Regions from separate parts of the Homo sapiens genome. Here regions 2, 3 and 4 are each linked to region 1. Evidence: fine-mapped expression QTL. A gene starts in region 1. Each other region holds a variant in brackets. All regions are shown on one strand. Distances are from middle to middle. Region 1 holds the start of CERS6 (ceramide synthase 6). Region 2 overlaps LOC105373734 (a long non-coding RNA gene). Region 3 overlaps CERS6 (ceramide synthase 6). Region 4 overlaps CERS6 (ceramide synthase 6).

Evidence for each region. PIP is the estimated chance that this variant, and not a neighbour inherited with it, causes the effect.
Region 2: its variant is the best candidate, but not a certain one, in a credible set for the expression of CERS6 in whole blood (INTERVAL, PIP 0.58).
Region 3: its variant is the best candidate, but not a certain one, in a credible set for the expression of CERS6 in sigmoid colon (GTEx, PIP 0.85).
Region 4: its variant is the best candidate, but not a certain one, in a credible set for the expression of CERS6 in whole blood (TOPMed, PIP 0.75).

What each region holds. Positions count from the first base shown.
Region 1 is chr2:168,452,775-168,458,652 of GRCh38, reverse strand. CERS6 (ceramide synthase 6) reads right to left here and starts at 2,381. Exons shown (of 10, transcript NM_203463.3): 1 at 2,035-2,381. The coding sequence starts at 2,204. It overlaps LOC102724081 (a long non-coding RNA gene), which reads left to right. Exons shown (of 4, transcript XR_002959433.2): 1 at 1-1,622. RefSeq lists silencers at 1,690-1,749, 2,200-2,329, 2,450-2,539, 2,570-2,789.
Region 2 is chr2:168,361,191-168,367,068 of GRCh38, reverse strand. The region is part of intron 2 of LOC105373734 (a long non-coding RNA gene); the gene reads left to right. Among named protein-coding and RNA genes, the nearest start is that of CERS6, 92 kb to the left of the region's middle. The variant A/GTA (reference allele first, on the strand shown) is at 2,498.
Region 3 is chr2:168,636,663-168,641,662 of GRCh38, reverse strand. All of the region lies in intron 4 of CERS6 (ceramide synthase 6), which reads right to left. Among named protein-coding and RNA genes, the nearest start is that of MIR4774, 56 kb to the right of the region's middle. The variant A/G (reference allele first, on the strand shown) is at 1,926.
Region 4 is chr2:168,765,740-168,771,617 of GRCh38, reverse strand. CERS6 (ceramide synthase 6) reads right to left here. Exons shown (of 10, transcript NM_203463.3): 9 at 5,870-5,878; 10 at 1-2,108. The coding sequence ends at 1,956. Among named protein-coding and RNA genes, the nearest start is that of CERS6-AS1, 18 kb to the left of the region's middle. The variant T/A (reference allele first, on the strand shown) is at 3,042.

The sequences.
Region 1 (5,878 bases):
CTTAGATCAATGGCCTGAAGGAAACTGACCAACTCACTTTATATCAATATGAGGACATTTGCTGTGACTGACAATTGAAAGCAGCTCACCCCTCTATGTAAACTCTAAGTCGAGTCATGGGATTATGGAAAAAAAGAAAGAAAATAAAAAATGTTTAGAAAGAGGAAAAATGAACTTCCAGTTTTCAACTATCACATTAGTGTTTATCTTTTTAGAGGCAGAGACAATCTAAGTACAAAGCCATCTCCATTCTAACAACTTAATTTTTTTAAACACAGTGAACAGCCTGGAATCAGCATAGAGAAGGAGGATGTCAGGAAAATTCGGCTGTTTGTGCACAGATCATGCTTTTGTTCTCCAACACATAAGACTGCACATCTCTTTCAAATGCATTATCTATCTAAAAGTGAGCCCAGCCAGAATTTATCAGACACAATTTATCATAATTCAGCAATTGTGTGTAGATCCCCTACTATGTGCCAACATAGAGCAAACCTGCTATCCCTGAGTCTGCTTGTTTTTGGAGAGCCTGCAAAACTGTATAGAGTTCATATTTTCTGTAACCAAACATTTGCTCTAGAGGTAACTCTACACCTGCAAACACACCCATTTTTTCACAGCACTGCTGTGACTTTTTTGATCCTTTTTTGTATAGGATCAATGACACATCTGTATTAGATTCCAATAATTTAAACATAGGTCTTAAAGTCTGTTGCTTTGTGCATGTCAATTTCTGCAGGCGAACAGCTGACTTCGTTTTCAAGCAACAATACTGTCCGGTGAAAAATATACCTTCCTGAGACAAAAGATACTTTTTGTCCCCATGAAGCTTTGTTGCCTCGTCCAGCAGCAAATGACTCAAAAGACGCGTTCTGCCACCCTCAACAGTCGTTTTCAGGCAAAGAGGAACAGCAAATGAGGTACCAGCAAAAGCTTAAGAAACAAAACCAAGGTGAGTTGAAGGCGGGGAAGAAAGGCGGAGTGGAAGCGAGAAATGCAATCTAAACTCTACTTTGTGATCTAAGAAATTCAGCCTTTACTGATGAATTGGGCAGAGGAAGGGGAGGGTACAAGAAAGGGGAAGATAATATTTTCTGTTACGAAAAAAAAAGTGTGCTGCTGTCCTGGTTTTCTTTCAGTAGCACCCAGAGAATGCATGGCAGGCACAATCTAGTTTCGCGACGAAAACGAATTCCATGAGAATAACACAAGTTTGTATGTGACACAATGGAGATATCCAACCAAACCGAGGAACTATACAATTGCATGACAATTCCTCAAAATTTTAAGTGCCTTCGAGTACCAAAAAAGAAGTTTATGATTATTCACAGGACAGGGTTATCAGTTTAATATCACCATTTTGCAGGATGTGGACCCGTCCTGTCACATCCTCTTTTAAAGAAACCGCTAATAACCTGAAATGCTATTATCCCCTATTTGCCAGGACTGTGGGCCTGATAGTTTCACGGATAAAAACCAAACAGCGACCAGAAGCCAGGAAGTCCCTGGCGAATTCTTTTGAAGCACAACCCCTACAATCCGTGTGCCGGAGCATAAAGATTGAAGTGTGCGCGGTTCCTCCTCCCTCCGGGCCGCGCGTCCGGAACGTTCCTGGCTGTCAGGTGGGTGGCGCGGGCCCCGGCGGGAAGCCCTGCCTGGCAGCCTTGCGTGGCGCGCCGGCGGAGAGGGGCGAGCCCCGCGGAATGCGGCGGGTCCTGAGCCCGACCACCGCTCACCTTTGTTCGCCTGCCCTTGCCGGGAGGAGAGCAGGGCCCAGGAGGAGGGCAGGGGGCGACCCTAACGCTCCGCGGCTCCTCCCCGGCGCCCGGGAGGAAATCCGTGGCAAGCCAGACCCTTTCTGGCTCCCAGAAAGCCAGCGGGGCAGGGGGGTCAGCAACCCCTCCCCGAACACAAAGGTTGGGAGGCGTGAACGCGAGCGTTGGGGGCGCGGGGGCGTGCGCCAGAGAGCGCGCGAGTGTGTGCGCGCGTGTGTGTGCGCAGGGGGAGGGGAGGAGGGGCTTCAGCCCTTCTTACCTCTCGAAGATGAGCCGCACCATGAAGATACAGAAGGCCAGGGGAAAAGCGAGATAGAGGTCCTCAGCCTGCGGGAAGGTGGCCTCCTCCGTGTTCTTCAGGTCCGCCCAGGTGACATTGTGCGGGAGCCAAAACCTCTCGTTCCAGAACCAGGCTAAGATCCCTGCCATCTTGCTTTGTCCACTCCTGTCCTGCGGCACCCGCAGCCCGCCAAGCTCTCCACCGCGCAGGGCGCCCGGGGATGCGCGCCCGGCTGGCCCCGAGCCTGTGCCGCCGCCGCCGCTGCTCCCGCCCGCCGCCGCCGCCTCCTCCGCGGCCGCTGCTCTCGAAGGCTCGCGGCGAGCCCCGGTTCTCTCCTCCCTCTGGCCGCGCTGGGGAAAGGGGCCGCCTTGCCCGTCACATGGCAGCTCGGGCCGCCCGCCCTGATTGGCTCGTCTTCGCGTCAAACAGCGAGGCACACACGCGGCCAACTCGCCCACACCCGCAGGGCAGGGCGCAGTCGCTGCGCCCTGGGCGCAGGGGCACCGCTCCGGGGAGTGTCGCCCGCCCCTGCTCTCACCGCTCTTTCGCTTTGCGCTTAGGGCGACGACCTAAAGTCGACCCCCCAAATCCGCCCTAGCCCCCTGGCTGGCTCGCACATGCTCAGAATGCTGGCTCCTGCCCCGCTGGGGTTTCAGGGCTCTCAGTCCTCTTCCCGTGCGCCCGGAGGCGGTGGGTCAGCAGGTAGGGGCTGCCGCCAAGCTTCAGAACCAGCCCTGCTCCAGGAGGACAGCAAAAAAAAAAAAAGGGGGGGGGAGGGGGAGGGGTAAAGAGCAAAGGAGGAAGTGGGAGGGAAAGGATCCTCCACTCCCGCGCTTGGAGAGGCAGGGTGAAAAATCAGGAACTGAGGCAGGATGGTTTGGCAAGAGCCTTCTGCCTCTGCCCCACGCCTGCCTTTCCCCAATCTTTGACTTTCCGGTCTTTTATACTGCTGCTTCTCATCAAAGTAGCTCCCCCAGGGAACAAGCCCCCCTATATTGATTTATGAGGTGGTACAAAAAATTAGGCACTTAATTGCTATTTGATTATTAATTGCTACTTGATGACGATGATGATGATGATGATGATGATGATAGCAACTGCAGCGTTCTGTAAAACCACCCCTCTCAACTAACCTCTCTGAAAAGGCTGCTAGACCACATTTTGACCTGGCACATCATGAGAACCTCCACTGTGCTACTCGGCAGGCTCATTATTTCTGCCTTTTGAATCTAAAACCTTTAAGGCATTAGGCCTGTGAGGCCTAACCCAGGCACCTTCCCTCCCGCAATGCATTTCCCCATTGATACAGGAGCCATGTGTGAATTCATTCCATGGCCCATGTATACATGGTTCTGGGGCATTTTTGTTCATTTTTCTCACATTCATTTTCTGCCTGGTGCTGCCAGTAGGCTATACTAAACCTTTCCAGTGGGCATATAACCGCACACACACACACACACACACACACAGAGAGAGGGAGTTTCTTTTACTCTTCCCTCCCCTCTTTCCACTCTATCTCTTGAAAGTGAAACTGAAGAATGGCCTATACTGGTGCTTCCAATTTCTCTCCCCTCATTTTCTTTTGAACTTCCATTTGGACATTTGTCTCCTCTGCTGCATTGAAACTGCCCAAGGTCACCTGTGATCTTCATGCTGCTAAACACAAAGGTCAGTTCTTATCTTAGTCCAGGCTGCTTAGACTAGGTGGCTTAAACAGCAGAATTTATTCCTCACGGTTCTGGAGGCAGGGAAGTCCAAGATCAACATGCAGGCAGATCCAGTGTCTGGCAAGGATCCTCTTCCTGGTTTGAAAACAGCTGTTTTCTTGTGTATCCTCACATGGCAGAGAGCACAGAAAGAGGAAACACAGATTAGTGCCCTATCTTCTTATAAGGGCACTAATCCCATTCATGAAGGTTCTACCCTCATTAGCTAATTACCTCCCAAAGACTCTGTCTCTGAATACTATCACATTGGGAACTAGGATTTCAGCATATGAATTTTGGGGGACACACACATTCAGTTCATAGCAGTTCACAACACCTCTGTCAGTAGCATTTGGCCCAGTTGTCAGGTCGTGTGTCTTAAAACATTCTTGACTTGGCTTCCAGAAACCTCACTCTTCTGGGTTTCTTCCTCCTTCATGGCCATTTCTTCTCAGTCTCCTTCCTGGTTACTCCTCACTTTTCTAACCCCTAGAAGTTATAGTGGCCTAGGAGTCAGTCTTTTTTCCTCTTCACTTTTCTATCTGAATGTATTCATTTGGTGATTTTATCCAGTCTCGTGGCTTTTAATGACATCTGTATGCCCTCCAATGTCATGCTAATAGCTCCCATATTTATATCTCTAGCCATGAACTTTTTCCTGACCTTCTGACTCTTAAATCCACTGGCAATTTAACACCACCACTCAGATGTCTAAAAGCTATCTCATGACCAAACTATTAATCTTCCCCTTGAAATCTCTTCCTCCTGTAGTCTTGGCTCAAGCCAAAAATGTGGAGTCATTTTTTCCCCTTCTCTCTTTCTCTCATACCTCCTTTCCAATCCATCCCAAATCCCATCAGCACCATTTTAAAACCATAATCTCACCATCTCTCACCACCTCCCCTGCTACCATCTTGGTCCAAACAACCAATACTTCTAATTCACATTACTCCAGTAACCTCCCAACTCCCAGTTTCACCCTTTGCCCCTCTACAGTCTATTCTCAGCCAGTGTGATCCTATGCAAATTTGTCAGATCACCCCTGGGGTGAAAACCCTGCTTCTTCCTCATCCCTCCCAAGTGAAAGCCAAATTATTCCAATGACCTGTGATATTTGGTTCCGTATTAACTCTGACTTATTTACTCTTCTCTCTCCTTCACTCTGCCTGAGTCCACACTGGCCACCCTGCCCTTACTGGGACACACCAGCTATGTCTTAGAGCCTTTGTGCTTGCTCTTCTCTGTCCCTGGAACTCTTTTTACACGAACATCCATGTTTGCTCTGTACTGATGTCATTTTCTCCCTGAAGCCTTCCCTGGCCACCCTAGTTAATCTACATCCCTCAATCCCCACCACCACTCTTCCTATCTTGCTTTGTTTTTCTCCAAGACACTTACCACCGTCAACACAAGATATATTGTACCTATATCTTCATCAATCATCCACACAGACATGCACTAAAATGTAAGCTTCAGAAAGTTAAAAGATTTGTATTTATTTTATCAACTGTTCTATTCCTAGCACTTAAAAAAAAAAACTGCCCGGCACATTGTAGATACTCAATAAACTACTGAATAAATGAATCAACATTACTCCAACCCCAAAAAGTCTTCTCAAGGAGAAGAAAAAAAATCTGAATAATTGTGTTAAATATTTATATATCCATGTTAGACTCGTGTGTAGAATAGTGTGGGCATAAAGAAGGAATTGGTCAATTCTGGGGTGAGGGAGGTGAGGTGTCATTGAAGTGAGTCTTCATTTGGGAGTAGAAGTCGCCATCACCACTCTAGACCATGTGGTGAGCTTCTCAGTAACACTGGAACATGCCTTGGCACCAGCTGCATTCTCGTAGGCCATAGACAGAGGTTTGTTAAGACCTCTCACCAACTTTGTGTCCGAAAGTCATGTCATGACATGTCATGACATGTCAGAGCCTGGCCTTCTGGGCCAGCCAGACTTCTTCTGTGACTACCCCTGGTTTCTCATGTCACTCCTTCCTGTATGACCTGATAGTACCTTGCTTCCTACTCCATGGCTTCTGTGCTCTCCAGCAGCTCCTTCTATGTCCCCAAGCATGTATAATACTGTTGGTGAGTTAATGCCCTGGGATCTGACT
Region 2 (5,878 bases), 92 kb after region 1:
GCATCTTTCTAGAGTTGCCAGAGTCAGTATTTTATGTCATGCCATTCCTCCTCGCCATGGACTCTCCAAACCCACACATTGCATCTTTTGTTTCAAAAATGTTCCTTAATTTTTCTTTTCTTTTTTGAGAAAAGGCCTCACTGTGCTACCCAGGCTGGAGTGCAGTGATGCAATCATGGGTCACTCCAGCCTTGACTTCCCAGGCTCAGGTGATCCTCCTAACTCAGCCTCCTGAGTAGCTGGGACTACAGCTGTGTGCCACCATGCCTGGCTAATTTTTGTATTTTGTGTAGAGACAGGGTTTTACCATGTTGCCTAGGCTGGTCTGGCATTCCTGGACTCAAGCAACCTGCCTGCCTCGGCCTCCCAAAGTCCTGAGATTACAGGTGTGAGCCCCATGCCAGGCCCTGAATTTTATTTTGATAATCTCTGAGATTGCTAGAACCACTGGAAAGTGCAGCACCACAGAGCCAGAAAATCAGTGGCATGATACCAACTAATGTGTAAATAACACTAGTTTACAATTAGTTATCCACGATTAACATGATTTTCACGGCAACACAGTGAGGAAGACATTCTCGTGATTCCCATCTGACAGATGGAGAAACCGAGCTTCAAAGATGTGAAGGATGTTTAAAGTCAGATTTAACTGGGCCTAAACTCCAAAGCTGGTTTTCTGATATCAGAACCTAGTTGGATTGGTGCACATGCCTGTATTTCTGGACATTTGGGATCATCCCAGGCCTCAGGCTTCCATACTTTCCTACTTTGACACTCCTGAGAAATCTCATCCGAAAGAAACTTCAATCTTGGCTCTTAAAAGAGAGGGTAGGGTAATAAGAATAATTAGAAGAGTAATTAGAATTGCGCCATAAGAAAGAGACAGAGTGGTCTGTTCACACCAATGGCTGGCTGACTTGAACTGTAGAGTGGCACTGCTGCTTACTGCCCCTGTGCAAGGACACGCTCTGCCTCCCCTGCCTCCTACAGCACGTGTCAGCTGCACAGACCTTCTTTCTGTTGCTGCAGCACACGAAAGCTCTCTCCCACCTGGGGGTCTTTACACGGCTGTGCCCTCTGCATCCCGGGACCTTCTTGCCAGCTCATTCCCATTATTCCTGGTCCCATTCAGATGCCAGCTCCTCAGGATGCCTCTTCTGCTCACTCTTTATAGCCCAGCCCATTACACTCTGTCCTGTCACCTTTGTTTATTCTCCTCAAACTACTTACTGTCTTTAAAATTAGCTTATTACTTTTTTTAGAATATACCATCTTAAGTATTTTAAGAGTACAGTTTAGGCCAGTGGTAGCTCACACCTGTAATCCCAGCATTTTGGGAGGTCAAAGCAGGTGGAATGCTTGAGCCCAGGAGTTCAAGACCAGCCTGAGCAACATGGCAAGAGCCCATCTATACAAAAAATAAAATTTTAATTAGCCAGGCACAGTGGCATGCACCTGTGAGCCCAGCTGTTCAGGAGGCTAAGGTAGCTGAGGTAGGAGGACGGCTTGCACCTAGGAGGTTGAGGCTGCAGTCAGCCATGATTGTGCCTCTGCACCCCAGTCTGAGCAACAGAGTGAGACCTTGTCTCTGAAAGAAAAACTGAGTGTACGGTTCAGTGGCAATAAGTACATTCACATTGTTACGCAACCATCACCACCATCCATCTCGAGAACTCTTCATCTTGCAAAACTGTGTGCCCGTTAAACAAAAACTCCCCATTTCCCAATCCTTCTAGCCCCTAGCAACCACTCCTATACTTTTTGTCTTTATGGATTTGGCTGCTCTAGGTACCTCATGTAAGTGGAATCATGTGATATTTTTCTTTTTGTGACTGGCTTACTTCACTTAGCATGATGTCCTTGAGGTGCACCATGTTGCAGCAGGTGCCAGAATTGCCTTCAAGACTGGATTGTGTTCCATGGTATGTATGCACCACATTTTGTTCATCCATTCACCCGCCAATAAACATTTGGGCTGCTTTCACCTTTGGCTATTGTGAATAATGCTGCCATAAACATAGGTGTACAAATATCCCTTTGAGGCTCTACTTTCAATTCTTTTGAGTATATACTCAGACGTTGAATTGTTGGATCATATGGTAATTCTATTTTTAATGTTTTGAGGAGCCTTCACACTACTGCAGCATTTTACATTCCCATCAGTGCATTACGGTTTTGATTTCTCCACATCCTTCTCAACATTTATTTAGTTCTGTTTTTTTTTTAATAGTAGCCATCCTGATGAGTGTGAGGTGGTGAAATTAGCTTCTCATCTACTTGTTTATCAACTATTTCTATTTACTAGAATAATAACTAGGAGAGCATTATTTATTCAACAGTGTTTGGCATGTAGATGATCAATAAATATTTTTTGACAGAACATAGGATGATCAGCATACTTTTTCATTTAATTTTTAAATGAAAATTTAAAATTTATATATATACGTGTGTGTATATATGTATGTTTATGTGTGTATATGTATATATATGTGTATAT[A/GTA]TATATATGTGTATATATATATGTGTATATATATGTGTATATATATACATATGTATATATGGAGAGAGAGAGAGAGAAAGAGTAAGGTTTACTTGACAGGTAAGTCTCTCTCCCCTTGCCCCCAGCTACCTAATTTATTTCTTCAGAAGCAACAACTTTTACTAATGTCTCATGTATCCTTCTAGAAGTGTCTTATAATTATAGTCATGTACACTCTTTTTTTCATACAAATGGTAGCTTACTGATTTATGAGCAAAATGTGGATTAGGAGCCAGACTAATGGGCTAATTCTAGGGACACAGGCCAGAGTTCAGTCCTCAAAGTAAGAAGGGAAACCAGTAGATCAGAGTCAGGAAGGTGAAATTGCACCAAGGCTCAGGATTAGAGGCCAGAACAGGCAGTTGTTCCCAGGCAGAAAGGAAGATTCTTGCATGTGTCACATACATCCCTGCCTGCAACTGGCAAAGTCTTCTCTCTGTCCCTTGTGTACCAATTTACTTCTAGATGTCTCCCCTACCTGCCAGAGAGCAAGCTCACATGGTAGGATGTGCTGTGAGCACATGGTGACTTTGGTGGAGGAGTCTGAGGTCATGGCACAATGTTGAAGTGGAATTATCCAGTGATGGGGATGGAAGTGGTGACAGTGAGTCTTGACTAGAGTTAATGACTTGGGTGTCATCTATACAGAGGGGGTGGGTGCTAAAGTTTATGGGCAACAGTGAGCCTTCTAAAATTAAGTGTGATCTGGGCATGGTGGTTCATGCCTGTAATCCCAGTGCTTTGGGAGGCCGAGGCGGGAGAATCACTTGAGGCCAGGGGTTTGAGACCATCACTGGGAACATAGTGAGACCCTGTCTTTACAAAAAAAAATAAAATAAAATAAACCAAAAATGAATAAATAAATAAAGTGTGTTAAGAGAGAAGAGCAACAGGCAAAGACTGCACCCTGCCAATGACCACTGAAATCAGGAAGTGAAAGAGAAATTGTTGAAGAAAGAGGAATAATCCTTATCACCCTCTTGGCATGGGCACAATGGTGATGTTTCTTCATTTAAGAATCTCTAAGTTCACTCTGAATCACATGAGATTTCCTTTTAAGTATTTCCAGTAATTTATTCGTTAATTTATTTGCACGGAAACCAAATGCTTTCCTGGAAAATTGGTCTGTAAAAATATGTCACTCTTCAGGACAGTTGATCCCACAATGTGCTAATGAGGAGCAAGAAAGAAGTAGTGTGCCCTCTCCACAAATTGTATTCTTAACATGTTCACCTGCCCAAGTACTTGCCATATTTCCATTTTTTTCAGTCTTTCTTTTATTCTTCAACCTATTTTAAAATATGACCTTTCTCTTAGGACTTAACTACTCTTTTTTTAACCTAAACCAAGATTTGCCCTATCCTCTGCATTGCAATGTCATTTTTATCTCTGTAGGTGGGAAAAATCAACTCTCTAGGATGTTCAATTAAGTTTTTCTTGGTTTGCCTATAAAAGCTATTTGAGGGTTTCTCTTAGGAACACCATCCACAGTAGCTTGCTTATACCTTAGAATAAAACCTCTGAGCTTTCAAACTTCTCTTTCCCCTCTGCTCTCCTGTTTCTTTCGGCCCCAAATATGCAATACCGCCTTCTGAAAAGCAGGCAAGTCTCTCATGTGACACCTTCAAATAATGCAAGAAGTGATCTTTTGCCCTAAAAGAATAAAGGGAATTCTGATTCTTTTTGCTGTTTTACAATGAAATTTCACCCTTTGCTTTCTATTTATGGCTTACCAAGTCTCAATGCTATATTGTTCTTTGAGAGAGAGCAAGAAGGTAATTCTGAATCCTAGTAAGCCCACATAGCACATATTCGGCCTGCAAACTCAAGTTCTAGGATCTAAAACCCATTAAACATAAGTCTGTGACATACAGAGAAAAGAACAATAGCAAAAAAAAGGAGCCCAATTATTCTCAAGAAAATACAGCTAGGGGAAGAGTTTTCAAAAATAGTTAAGTTTTCATATGCATCTATACCATCTTATTTTTATTCAATTTGCTCTTATTGACTATTTATCATGTGCTAGGTACTTTGTTAATGCTGGACATATAGAAATAAATAAGTTTCATAGAATCCACCTGGTTAAATAAAGAAAATGAGCTTGACCTTTCCACGGAGTAAAGTATGTGTGATACTATTGGTGTTACGGAGTCCCAAAAGGATAGAACTGTCAAGCGGAATGGGGCATTAGAAGGGAAATCTAGGTCAGAAAATCAATCTAATGGAAGAAGTATGTCAAGAAGGTATAAAACTCTGTGTAAAATTCAGAAGGACATTGTGGCAAGGTTATATTTAGTAATGGAGGGCTGGCAATTCATACTTCTGCTAGAAGTGCCATTCTTCCCACAGGGGAGTATCTATTAAATCCTTGGCTTAGTTTATTGACAATTTGTCCTCCATTAAAGTAGGGAAAACAGTGAGAAAAACAGCTATGCCAAACATGGTTCTGGCCAGCATAAAAGACTGGCTGGGGGTATGGAAGAGACAGAAGCCATGAGGAAAAATGACCCTGTCACATAATGTTAAGGAACGGGGAGGAATTTTTGGTGGGTAGACATTTCCTGGGACTTCCCTGGGGAAGTAGCTCAAAGGATGTTTAAAAGAAATGGAGGCACGATCCATTGCCTGAGACTAAGAAGGAATATGGCTAAAAAAAGATTGGAGGTTCTACAAAGCAAAATGTTGACAAGATCATCATAAATGATCTCAAGTAGAAAGAAAATGGAAAGCCAATATAGAGACCAATGCACGTACATAGATACTCTGAAGAGTTCTGTTTTTGACAAGCTATCTGAAAAAAAAATGCAAGCAGGGACACAAAATGAAGGGCACCAAAAAGTGACACAATCTTGATAGGGAAATAAGAATCAGCCTACAATCTGATAGGGCAAGATACCAATTTGATACTTTAACTCTGGTGTCTCCCCACCTCAACCCCCCAACCCCCATAATTGTTGCCTTGTACTCCTCCCTTAACAGCAAGCTAGACACAAGGCACCTGCCATCTCAGCAGAGGACCATTGAACACAGCATACAACCAGGAGAAAAATTAGTCCTATCCTGGGGCCTACATTGTTTTAGAGCTTGGTCAAGATGAGAGATACCCCCAGACCCCATATAATGATTGCCATATTTCTATGAGAAATTCCTATGTGTGGTGAGGGGAGGAGTTGGAAGTGGGTAGGGAGTGGTCTTCCAGATTGCATCTCCACTCCCAACTCCTCCCCCACCACACACAAACACACAAGAACTCCACGGCCATGGTGAAGTGACTGTGCAAGAAATCAAGGTGTTTGACCTCTTTTATTAAGAGCCCTAGGGCAGAAATGATGGGCTGTGGAG
Region 3 (5,000 bases), 180 kb before region 1:
TGCTTTACATATATGCAAAACAACCTTCCAACCTATACAATAGAGATTTAAAGGGCTTAACATTATAGGTGTTCAATGGTGAGGGGATCCACAAAGAACCTGGGCCGGTAGGTTTTAGGTAAAGGTGAGGACGGTCATTCTATGTACGTGATGCTACATTAGCAAACCCTGAGGAAGCCATGCATCCAGCTGCCTGGGACAGGAATATGTGGGGCAGTGGGAAGTCTAAAGACTAGGTGACAGTTTTATGCTTCATTTGCCTTTGTCAAAGTTGCTAACGTCCAGAGGAAAAGCTGGGGACTTTGTTCCGTGCAGTTTCTATGGGAAGCCAGGGAAGAACTCTCAAGAACAAATCGGTTAAACTGATTACAATCAGTTTAATTGAAAGACACGTCTAAAAAAATGACATTTCCGGTACAGTAATACTCATCTGGTATTTGAAAGTAAGGCAAGTGGTGCAGAGAAGGGTGAAATGGGGCGGCTGGGAAGGACAAGTGGTCTGAGCAATCATGTCGTCTGTGAAAGGGTTAAATGGTAATGAAGGAATAGTGACATCAACATCTGGTGGTTAAGTTCTGCTGGCCAGGATTAAGGATGTAATTTTACAGCAATCCATGGGTGGATTGGGCCAAGGGATGGAGGAAAGATCTGAAATGACTCTCCACCATCATCTTTAGTTCCCAACTCCACTCAGTCACCACTCTGGGTATATGGAGGAAGATGGAAAGAGAATACAGACAAGACATGGGTTAGTGGTACAGAATGAGTTAATAAGATGAGAGACTATATATTAAGGTCAAGGAGAAGGAAAGTGAGGAAGCCCTTTCCACACAAACACCAGGTATCTTTTAGAATGAGGACAAGCAGGAAAACTCAGCCTTCTTTGGCTAAAATGTCCCATCTCCTTAATGCAACATTCCACTTATCACAAAGCCTCATATTATATAAGTATTTTTAGACAAAGCTTAACTTCTCTGCTAGATTACAAAATCCCTGAAGGCAGGAGCCATAGCTTCCTACATCTGACACCATGTCTTGTGCATCGATGCTTAATAAATGTCTGCTAAATTGAATTAGGCTCCCATGTTACTGATGATACCAGGGAAAAGAGCAATAATAGCCTTGGCACCACAAGGTTAGTGTCTCAGACTGTTTCATCCATGGTGCCCACAATCACTGCTGTCATAGGATGGGTGCTCAACAGATTCTTAAAGAAAGAATGAACAAATGAACAGAGATCAGTATCTCCCACCAGTATGAACAGAAGCTCTTTGGAAATAGCCAGGAATGGAACACCCTTTAAATCCCAGCTTTTCCTACTTGAATGCTTTATGCCCACATTTCCATTCAGCAACATGCAGGGACTGCTTTGTATGGCAGCTATAGGATTAACAGACGTTATTAAGTTGTTAAGGTAAAGTACACGGTCCTAAGGGCACAGAAATTTGATGTATGTCTAGATATGTAAATACTTACATCACTATCCATATCGAGAACATTGCCAGCACTCACTCCAGCAGTCTCTCTTTACCCCACTCAGGTAAAACTACCTCTATCAATATAGATTAATTTCTATGAGGGAAAAAGTTACTTTATCCTTTTCACTCTTCACTTCCTTGTGGAAGCCTACATTTCTTGGGCACAAAATGGTCACCTTGTCTGTGCTTTGGAATAGTCATTCCAAGATAACTAGTATCACCAGATTTTTGACTAATAAATCCTAAGCAATGACAGCAACGGCCCCTGTCAAGCAGGCCTATTCTCATGTGCATTAATAAATGAGAAGGGAGGCAAACATAAACAAAACAAAGCACAAACACTAAGCCATTTGTCCCACCTGACAGCAGACCCAGTACCAGATACTCCCTGAACTAGAGTTCCCCTGGAACCACACACAGAGCTATAATCAGAGCATGAGCTGGTCC[A/G]ATCGGAATTCCTGCTGCTCTGCTCCACATCAAGTACTTGTCCTAAGCACCCCACCCCCATCCCAAACACACCCAGACAAGATGAGGCCCTTCCCTGCTGGGAAAGAACACTGGCTTCACAAGCAGAAGTAGAACATCTCATTACTTCCCCCAGAAAGCTGTTCTTAAGTAAAGAACATCTGGTTTGTTTCATTATTGTTGTTGATGAGGAAAATGTTCTATTATGGTGATCATGGTATGTGAACGCCATTAGCTTTCAGATTTTAGAAAAAACACACTTGAGTAATGCTTTCCTCGCTAAATTCAGTAAATCATTTTTCTTTCTGTGTCAGAGAGGTCTCTGATGATGGTTCAGCTAATGCAGAGTGAATGTGCAGGTACAGATTTTGATACATGGATCAATACTTCCTATCAAATTACCTGAATCTTCTGGGAGTTACTAGTTTTCTATTTCCCATGGTAGAAACAGGAGGTGAATACTAATGCAACTCCCTTCTCAGGCACTGCCTCCGGCCAAAGGAAGCCTGTAAAGCTAGTTTTGTCACAGCATATAAATTAGACCAATGTTTTTCATAGTCAAGTTCAACTCTAAACTTTTGAGTAGAAGTCTATGCCTTCAGGGGACTGTCTAATAATGAAAATCATATTTAAGTGAGTGTTATTTTGGTAGACTCTGACATGCGTTCTTTTTTTTTTATTTCTAGAGTTTCTACAAAGTTGCTATGTTATCAAGTGAGCTGAAAAAATAAGATTTATGGTTTTATAAAACACCAAATCCAGAAACTCTTGTATAATTACAAAAGAGCAAGAACTCAGAATGCAGCAGCCACCATTTGCTCTTGGAGTTCAAGGAATCCCCAATATCTTCCCCAAAAATCTATACTTCAGCTTTATGAAGTCCTAAAGTCTGTATACCTCACAGCCTGAAGAAAGCTGTCAATCTGAAATGCCATTCTCTCAAGACACAGCCTAAACACAATGCAGCAACAACATGAGGAAAGGCTTCTCAATGCTCTTTACAGAAAATTTTATAAAACCAAAATCAAAGTATGGCATACCACTAAACAAGAAGCTATAAGCAATAATCTCAGTGCTGATGAAATACCTTTATCATCTGAAAAAGTTTTTAATTTATTCTGGGCAATGGACAATGTCAAAGTATATTTCCTTAAATGTCAAAATATAAAGTCCAAATTAGCTTCAAAAAAAATCCCTGAATTGAATTTTTGTTTATATATTTTAATTGATATATAGTAGTTGTACATGTTTTGGGGGTAATGTGTTTTATTTTTGATACTTTTTTTTTTTGATACGATGTGCAATGGTCAAATCAGGGTAACTGGGATATTCATCACCTCAAACATTTTTCTTAGTCCAACCAGTTTCTTAATGTGAATAGTATATAGATGGTCTGCTAGTTACATTGCAGAAAATAAATTCATAACATAGAAGGAGAGAAAAAATTGTTCTGTGGAATGATACCAACTTGTGTAAAAAGGAATTTCTATACCCAGTCTGAAAATTAGGAGATGATTTCTGATGAGATCCAAAACTACCAAGAATGCAGCAACCACAGATTCTCAGCTTTGCTAGTATGAGTTCAGTTGAAAGTAGCAGATAAATAAAGCAAAACAGTGAGAACTAGGCAAACATAAACAGCTGAATTTTTTTTTTCAGACCAAACATTTCTATTTCTTCACCATTTAAATGGAATTCGACTTTTAATTTTTATTTCCTCCTCTTTAAAATTCACAACCTCATGTTCTTTTATGACCTAGGTATACCTAATCCTATGTATAGTCTTTTCCATTCCAATTCCTACATTTCAGAGTTAATTTTATTTAATAGAAAATAAAGTATTAAAGATATATTGAAAAAAACCTCCAAATTTCTACCTGTAAAAGGAGTCTTCATTTTTACCTACTGCTGTGATTTATCCATTACATTACTACCACAGTAAAACACATACATGAGATTGTTACTTTCATGTAACATTCTACTAAATATTTTAAGAATAGTTATAGTTTTTCTCAAAAAGATTGCATGTCATTTTGTCACTTTGATAATTTAATTAAAATATTCTTCTAATATGAGACATTAAGTTCTGCTTTGGATTTGCTATGTTATGTATGTGTATATATTCATATACATTTAGTGAATATCCATCACCTCCACATTATCACAAGTTGTAATAAGCAACTTCACACATTCACACATCCATATTTAGTGTTCCTGTGTAATTTTTTCTTTTTTTTTAGACGGCGTCTCACTCTATTGCCCCAGGCTGGAGTGCAGTGGCAGGATCTCAGCTCAGTGCAACCTCCGCCTACTGGGCTCAAGCAATTCTCCTGCCTCAGCCTCCTGAGTAGCTGGGACTATAGGCGTGTGCCACCAAACCTGGCTACTTTTTTTTTCTGTATTTTCAGTAGATACAGGGTTTCACCATGTTGGCCAGGCTGGTCTTGAACTCCTGACCTCGTGATCCACGCGCTTCAGCCTCCCAAAGTGCTGGGATTACAGGCGTGAGCCACCGTGCCTGGCAATTTTTTATTAAAGATAAGTTCATAGGAGTTGGAGTGCCAGGTCAAAATATAAGAAGATATTTAAGATTATTCTGCATTACTGTGCCACCTTCCAAGGAGGTGGGACCAGCTCACCATACATATGAGCAATTTCAAATTCTTTACTGAATTATGGGATATGAGCTGAAAGCCATTAGTTAGGATAGTCTACATTACTGATTTTAGAGACGAAGCAATTAAATCCAAGAGAGATTAAGAGGCTTGCGTAAAGGTCACAAAGCTGATTAATGGCAGAATTCAATAACCCAGGCGTTCTGACGGCCTCTACAGGGCCTCACAGTCACATTATCCTTGGTTTCTCACTGGCCTTGGAATGCCCTCTCAGATAGAATGCCAGCCACAAGCCAACACAGAAGGAAAATGAGGTAGGGTAAATGAAAGGGACGAGGAGAATCAGAACATATGCAAGAGGGTAGATGTAGGTAGAAGAGGGAAAGGAAGATGCAATAAGCAGCAGCACTGAAGAATTTCCTTTCGTTATTCAAGATCTTTT
Region 4 (5,878 bases), 310 kb before region 1:
TTCAGCTGTAATATGCTATTACCTTATACATATACTTGCATTTTAGCAGATGTTCTGGAGACTAACAAGTCCTTTTATGATTGTTCTTACAAACTCAACCATCCACAAATTACACTCCTAGACATATGCCTGTTTTGTGAAATAAAATAACAAGGCTCTAAAAGCAGAATTATTTGCATCGTTTTCTCAATAAACAAGCAGATGTATTTCTAAGCCTCTTCAATTATTACTAAGGACCATAACAGAAACATATTATTTTGTAAATAAGTAGGGCAAGATATAATATTACGGTAAGAATTTTTTGGTTGGGAACATTCTTTTAACTATTAACCCACAGATTGCAAATTGTGGGCAAAAAGCTTTAATTTTTTCCAAGAATTGAATTAAATGTGAATGGTTCTGAGCAGGATACGCACTCTCTGGTGTTTCTGCACGCTTGTTAGCATTTCTGCTGTTGTCTTCACAGCCCTGATTCACACATTTATATTATGGCATTTTTGTTTGGGGTTCGTTCTAAGTGATGGCCTTCTTGATTTATGAAGGGTTTTATAATCCCTTTTTCCTCTTACTAAAAGTTAGAAGAAGAGATAAAATCTTTGGCTGACATATGGTTTTCTTATCTGTACATAAATAACACTGCTATGTAGGAGACTTATGGAAACTTATTCTTCAGTAATTTTCCTCATTGTTGATATTGCCATTGTCCAATAGAATTTTTCATTTTTCCAGAAACAGCCCCATTTGAAAAAAATTCCTGGAAACCAAAGAAGCATTGTAGTGTAATGCTGCTCAGTGTTTAGTAACAGGAAAGTCATCTGGATTACGTTTAAGGAGAAAAGCAAAGGGTAAAATAGTCTTTCTCCCATTGGCTTTATTTTGCTCAGCAAAATAAAAACATCAACATCAAGTACTAGATAGGGCTTTTTCTTGAAAGCTGGTTGCATTAAAGTGCTCTGCACTGCACAGGTAATCTTTATCAACTCTTGAAATATTTTTTTGTCCCCAAATATAGTTAACTTCTTTCTTTTATAACATAAGACTGCACTAATTATAGGGTAGTGGCAAAACCTGGCTGAAATCAGTTGCTCTCTTTATGTTATTCCCAGAACACAGGACAAATTCCCATTCTTAACAGTGATTTCCTTGTTTATAACTATGAGCTTCAGTGAATATCCTCCTTCAAAATCAGAGCACTGACCTCATCACAGAGAAAAACAAACAAACAAACAAATACACTCTGCAACCTACAAGGTTAACCCTCAACTAGCTCACACCCATTGAAGAAATCTTGGCTGTGTGCACAAGAAATGAAATCTATTTCAAAGCAATTTAATACAAAACCATTCAAAAAAGTTCTCCAATAACCATCTTCTTTAATTTGAACTGCTAATTGAACATGAAGAGTGAAAATTAAACACCTAGTTCGTCCGGTTTAAATGGTCACTAAGACTGTATAGGCAATTTCAAAATGGGCACTGTAACTAAAAGAAAGCAAACCTATTTAGAGCTGAACGAGACTCTTGCACTGGGTTTTGCTTGCTCTAAGTGACAAAGTAAGCTGATGCTCATAGCACATTGGACTACAGCAAGAGAAAGGGGGAGAAGCAGATGGAGCATCTCCTTCACTGTCATGAGCCCAGTGAGTAAAAGGAGTGAGGAAACCCTCTTTTGTCCACAGATTTACAAATACAAAAAAATAAATAATATTCTAAGACAGTACAAATGCAAATACTGTTCCCTTGTGTCAATTACATACAGCATGCCTACAAAGAGAGAATGGTAATTCTTCTTCATTCACAGACAGGACACATGGCAGTGCACTATTCAAAATGCTTTGATAATCTTAATTTTTGTTTCTGGTGCTGAGATATTATGAAAGGAACTGCATTTGCAACTTATTAAATACTTCCAGGAACAAATAGTTCACTTTGCTTGGGACTTGTAGTTTTGAGTAATTAATCATCCATGGAGCAGGAGCCAGTCAGGAGATACCCGTTGGTACCACTGGTCCCATTGGTGGTTGTCGCAGTGTGGGGATTCTTTCCCGGAGGTTCTGAGTCCTCCTCATCTGAGCTAGACTCAATATCACTTCGATCATCCTTGGACACCTGTGGAGTAGAAGCAGGTGAGTATAACCAGCACCTAAGAAATCATCAAGGTATGGCATGCTAGAAGCACATGCAGTCATACACAAGGGGAAACAGATCCCAATGTTAAAAAACTGAAGAGGATGAGAACATTGCCAGAGCAATAAGTTCCCCTTCATTGGAGAGATAAAATGTAGGCGACAAAGTCATTTATGAAGGAATGTAAGTATCATGGAGGGCTAGACTTCTTGACTTCTTTAAGGTATCTTTCCATATTGAGAACATACTAGACCATGAATCCCACTTGTAATCAAAAAGTAGCATACTGTGTCACTGGAATGGCGTCATAGGAATTTGGTACAAATGGATCAATTTACTCATTGATGATCACATTCTCCTTGAGAATAATTTAAAATCAGCTCTCAATTAACCATAGCAATGGAGATAGTCACTAACTCAGAACACTGAAAAAAAAAAATTCCTATTTGGCTTTTTCATGCATTGTTTTATGATTACATTTCTATTTTTTGTATGCTATAATTAATTAGGAATTTTGTTCTGTATGTCACACAACAAATGACAGCAGGAAGCATTTTTTTTTTCTTTTCTTTTTTTTTTTTTTTTTTGAGTCAGAGTCTTGCTCTGTTGCCCAGGCTGGAGTGCACTGGTGCGATCCAACTCACTGCAACCTCCGCCTCCTGGGTTCAGGCAATTCTCCTGCCTTAGCCTCCCGAGTAGCTAGGATTACAGGCATGAGCCACCATGCCCAGCTAATTTTTGTATTTTTAGTAGAGACAGGGTTTCACTATGTTGGCCAGGCTGGTCTGGAACTCCTGACCTCAGGTGATCCACCTGCCTTGACCTCCCGAAGTGTTGGGATTACAGGTGTGAGACACCGTGCCTGGCCAGGAGGCATCTTAAGAACCTGCTGGGCGGGGTGAAGCTTGAAATATT[T/A]CCTGAGGAAAATCCACTGACTAGATCATCAAGAACTGGCTCCCAGCCAGGCGAGGTGGCTCATGCCTATAATCCCAGCACTTTGGGAGCCTGAGGTGGGTGGATCACCTGAGGTCAGGAGTTCAAGGCCAGACTGACCAACATGGAGAAGCCCAGTCTCAACTTAAAAAAAAAAAAAAATTAGCCGGGTGTGGTGGCGCATGTCTGTAATCTCAGCTACTCTGGAGGCTGAGGCAGGAGAATTGCTTGAGCCCAGGAAGTGGAGGTTGCGGTGAGCCAAGATCGCGCCATTGCACTCCAGCCAGAGCAATGAGTGAAACTGTCTTAAAAAAAAAAACAAAACAAAACAAAACAAAAAAAACTGGCTCCCATCCTGCCAAGTCTCTTCAATCCTCCATTCAATCTCACTAAGTCACATGGAGGTCAAAATAAGGTGAGAAGATGTAAATCTATACATTACCATAAACGATGAGAAAAATCCTACTATTTAGCAAGGAAGTAGTTTTTGGGGGAAATTAAGAAAATACTGCTTTTAAGATAAAAATAGTTTGAACCTCCTATTCTGTAAGTCTAAATTATGGTAAGCATTTTTACCCAGAAGGCCTTAAGATTCTTGAGTAACTCATCACTGCTTACTTATATTTTTCAGTGGTGTGACAAAAGAGACCTGGTGGCCTCCCTTCATAGGAATTTTCCCAATCTGGTCCTCCTGTGATTCTCTAGGGGGTGGGCTGGGGAGGTGGCAAAGTCTCCTGGGAGGTATGGCAGAATTAACTGGCGCTTTCCCACATCACATCCTGTCTATGTTACCACTACACTCTAACATGAGAATCCTGGACTCCCTCCACCTCTCCCAACTTGAGAAACTACAGTTCCTGTGGGAGAACGTCCTCTCTCTCAGGTGGGTGGGGTCAGGAGAACTTGAAAGCTGAGAACTACTGCTTTATGCCAACCAGTGGTGATGAAGTAAATATCATAAAAGTGAACCTCACTCCAATACCCGTTGAGATGGGACTGAACTCACACAGGCCATCTCCAAAAAGATTTAAATACTAAGACTCCAAAATGGCTAAAGATAATTGAACTTAAACATTGTGAGTCACAAAGCCAGCATTATAGTAAAGTTCCACTATGTTGTTAAGTCCATTAGTCATAAATAGAAAACTCCAGTTTTACAAAGTGATTAATTTACATTTGCATGCTCAGTCAGATTTTTTAAATTGCACTTAGAAAAATCTATACTTATGTTACCTTCAAAGAAAGGACAATTTAGAATATCTCAAAATAGCCCAGAGGAAAATAACTCATGGTCAAGATGAATCTTACTATCCCAGGTGAGAGCCGCAAGGGCAGCTAAGATATTCTGAAGCCTGAGATCTAGAATAAAATTAATCATCATCTCTCTTCATAAAGTAGAAGGAATAAGTTGAAGAGCAGGCAACAAGTCTGGTAGAAATAGCAATGCAATTAAGGACACAAGTAATCTAAGCAGCATTCTTGCATATTTAGTTATTGTTATCATATTGACAGTTTTGTGCATGTTGATTAAATTTGTATCCAAATGAGGACAAGGAGATTTTAAAATAGAAATACATGTTCATTACAAAGAGTGAGAGGTCACAGAGAAAAATGAACTTTAGCTTCTGAACAATTAATTGATCAAAATAATTAGGATTTCTACTAGAGCTGGTGCTGAGAAGTGGCTTCATAGTACACGACTAGATGCCCCGACTTCCCCTGCAGAACAGGCCAGCCCTGTTGACCTTGATGAGTCAGAGTGGTCAGGTGCTGCCATATGGCCCCAGGCAGGTCAGGCCCACAGCTGATGCTCAGGCCTCCATTCTGCAATGTGTTGATCCTCTCCCCCTCCAACTAGTTCTGTTTCTCCTACTTTACTTTGGTCTATTTCTGTCTTTTAGCCAACACATTAAACCTGGCAAGTACCTGGCAAGCTTTCACACCATCCTGTCAGAGAGGGGGTAGTGAAAGAAATTCTTCTTCTCTGTTGGATCATGCAACATTTAGCAGAATACAAGCTCACACCAAAGGGCCCTAACAGAGCTGTCTCTAGTGTCTCTTGCAGTTCACAGAGCTACAGCTCACATGAAGCCTCTAGACAGTGCCAATAGGTTAGACAGAACAATATGCGTGGAAACAAAAGCATCTGAGTGCCCCTCCAACAGGCAAGAGGCACTCAGGACAGGGATAGAGAGAGAGGAGGAGAAACTTACATGTAAAGGGTTCCACTTCCCAGCCTTCCAGGGTAGCAGAAGGAAGAGAACAAACAAGTAAGAAAATGTCACAGAGAATGATCTGGAAAAGTCTCTGCTCTACACACAGGGTTGGGGCTGAGGCTTAGGAAGCTTTATTCGAATCAACCTCAAGTCCACTTTTAACCAAAAAGATTTAACTAAATCTTGTTGGAAGTCATGAACAGATTTGTTTTTCAGTTTGAAAGAAAGGTTTGTTTAAACCGGCATACAGCACCAAGCGACCCTTCTCATAAAAGGAAAGAAGTGATTAAATTTCTGTTCAGTATAAATATAATCAGAGGAGGTCCAAGGTTGACAGGAAGAGGGAGAGCGAACACAACAAATAATATATTATTAAGTCTAAAATTACAAATGCATATCATTGGGTGCCATCGCCAGCAAAGGAACACTGAAGACTTAAAAAATGAACTAGAAAAGGAAATGACTCAATTTTTGCTCAATTCTGAAGAAATACTACCAATTTTGATGAAATATGGAATAGTAAATAGTTGATCCAGAGAAATTACAAAAACAAAATTTTTTAAGACATATTGGAAAAAGTGAGTTGTAGCTTACCTTGCCTCT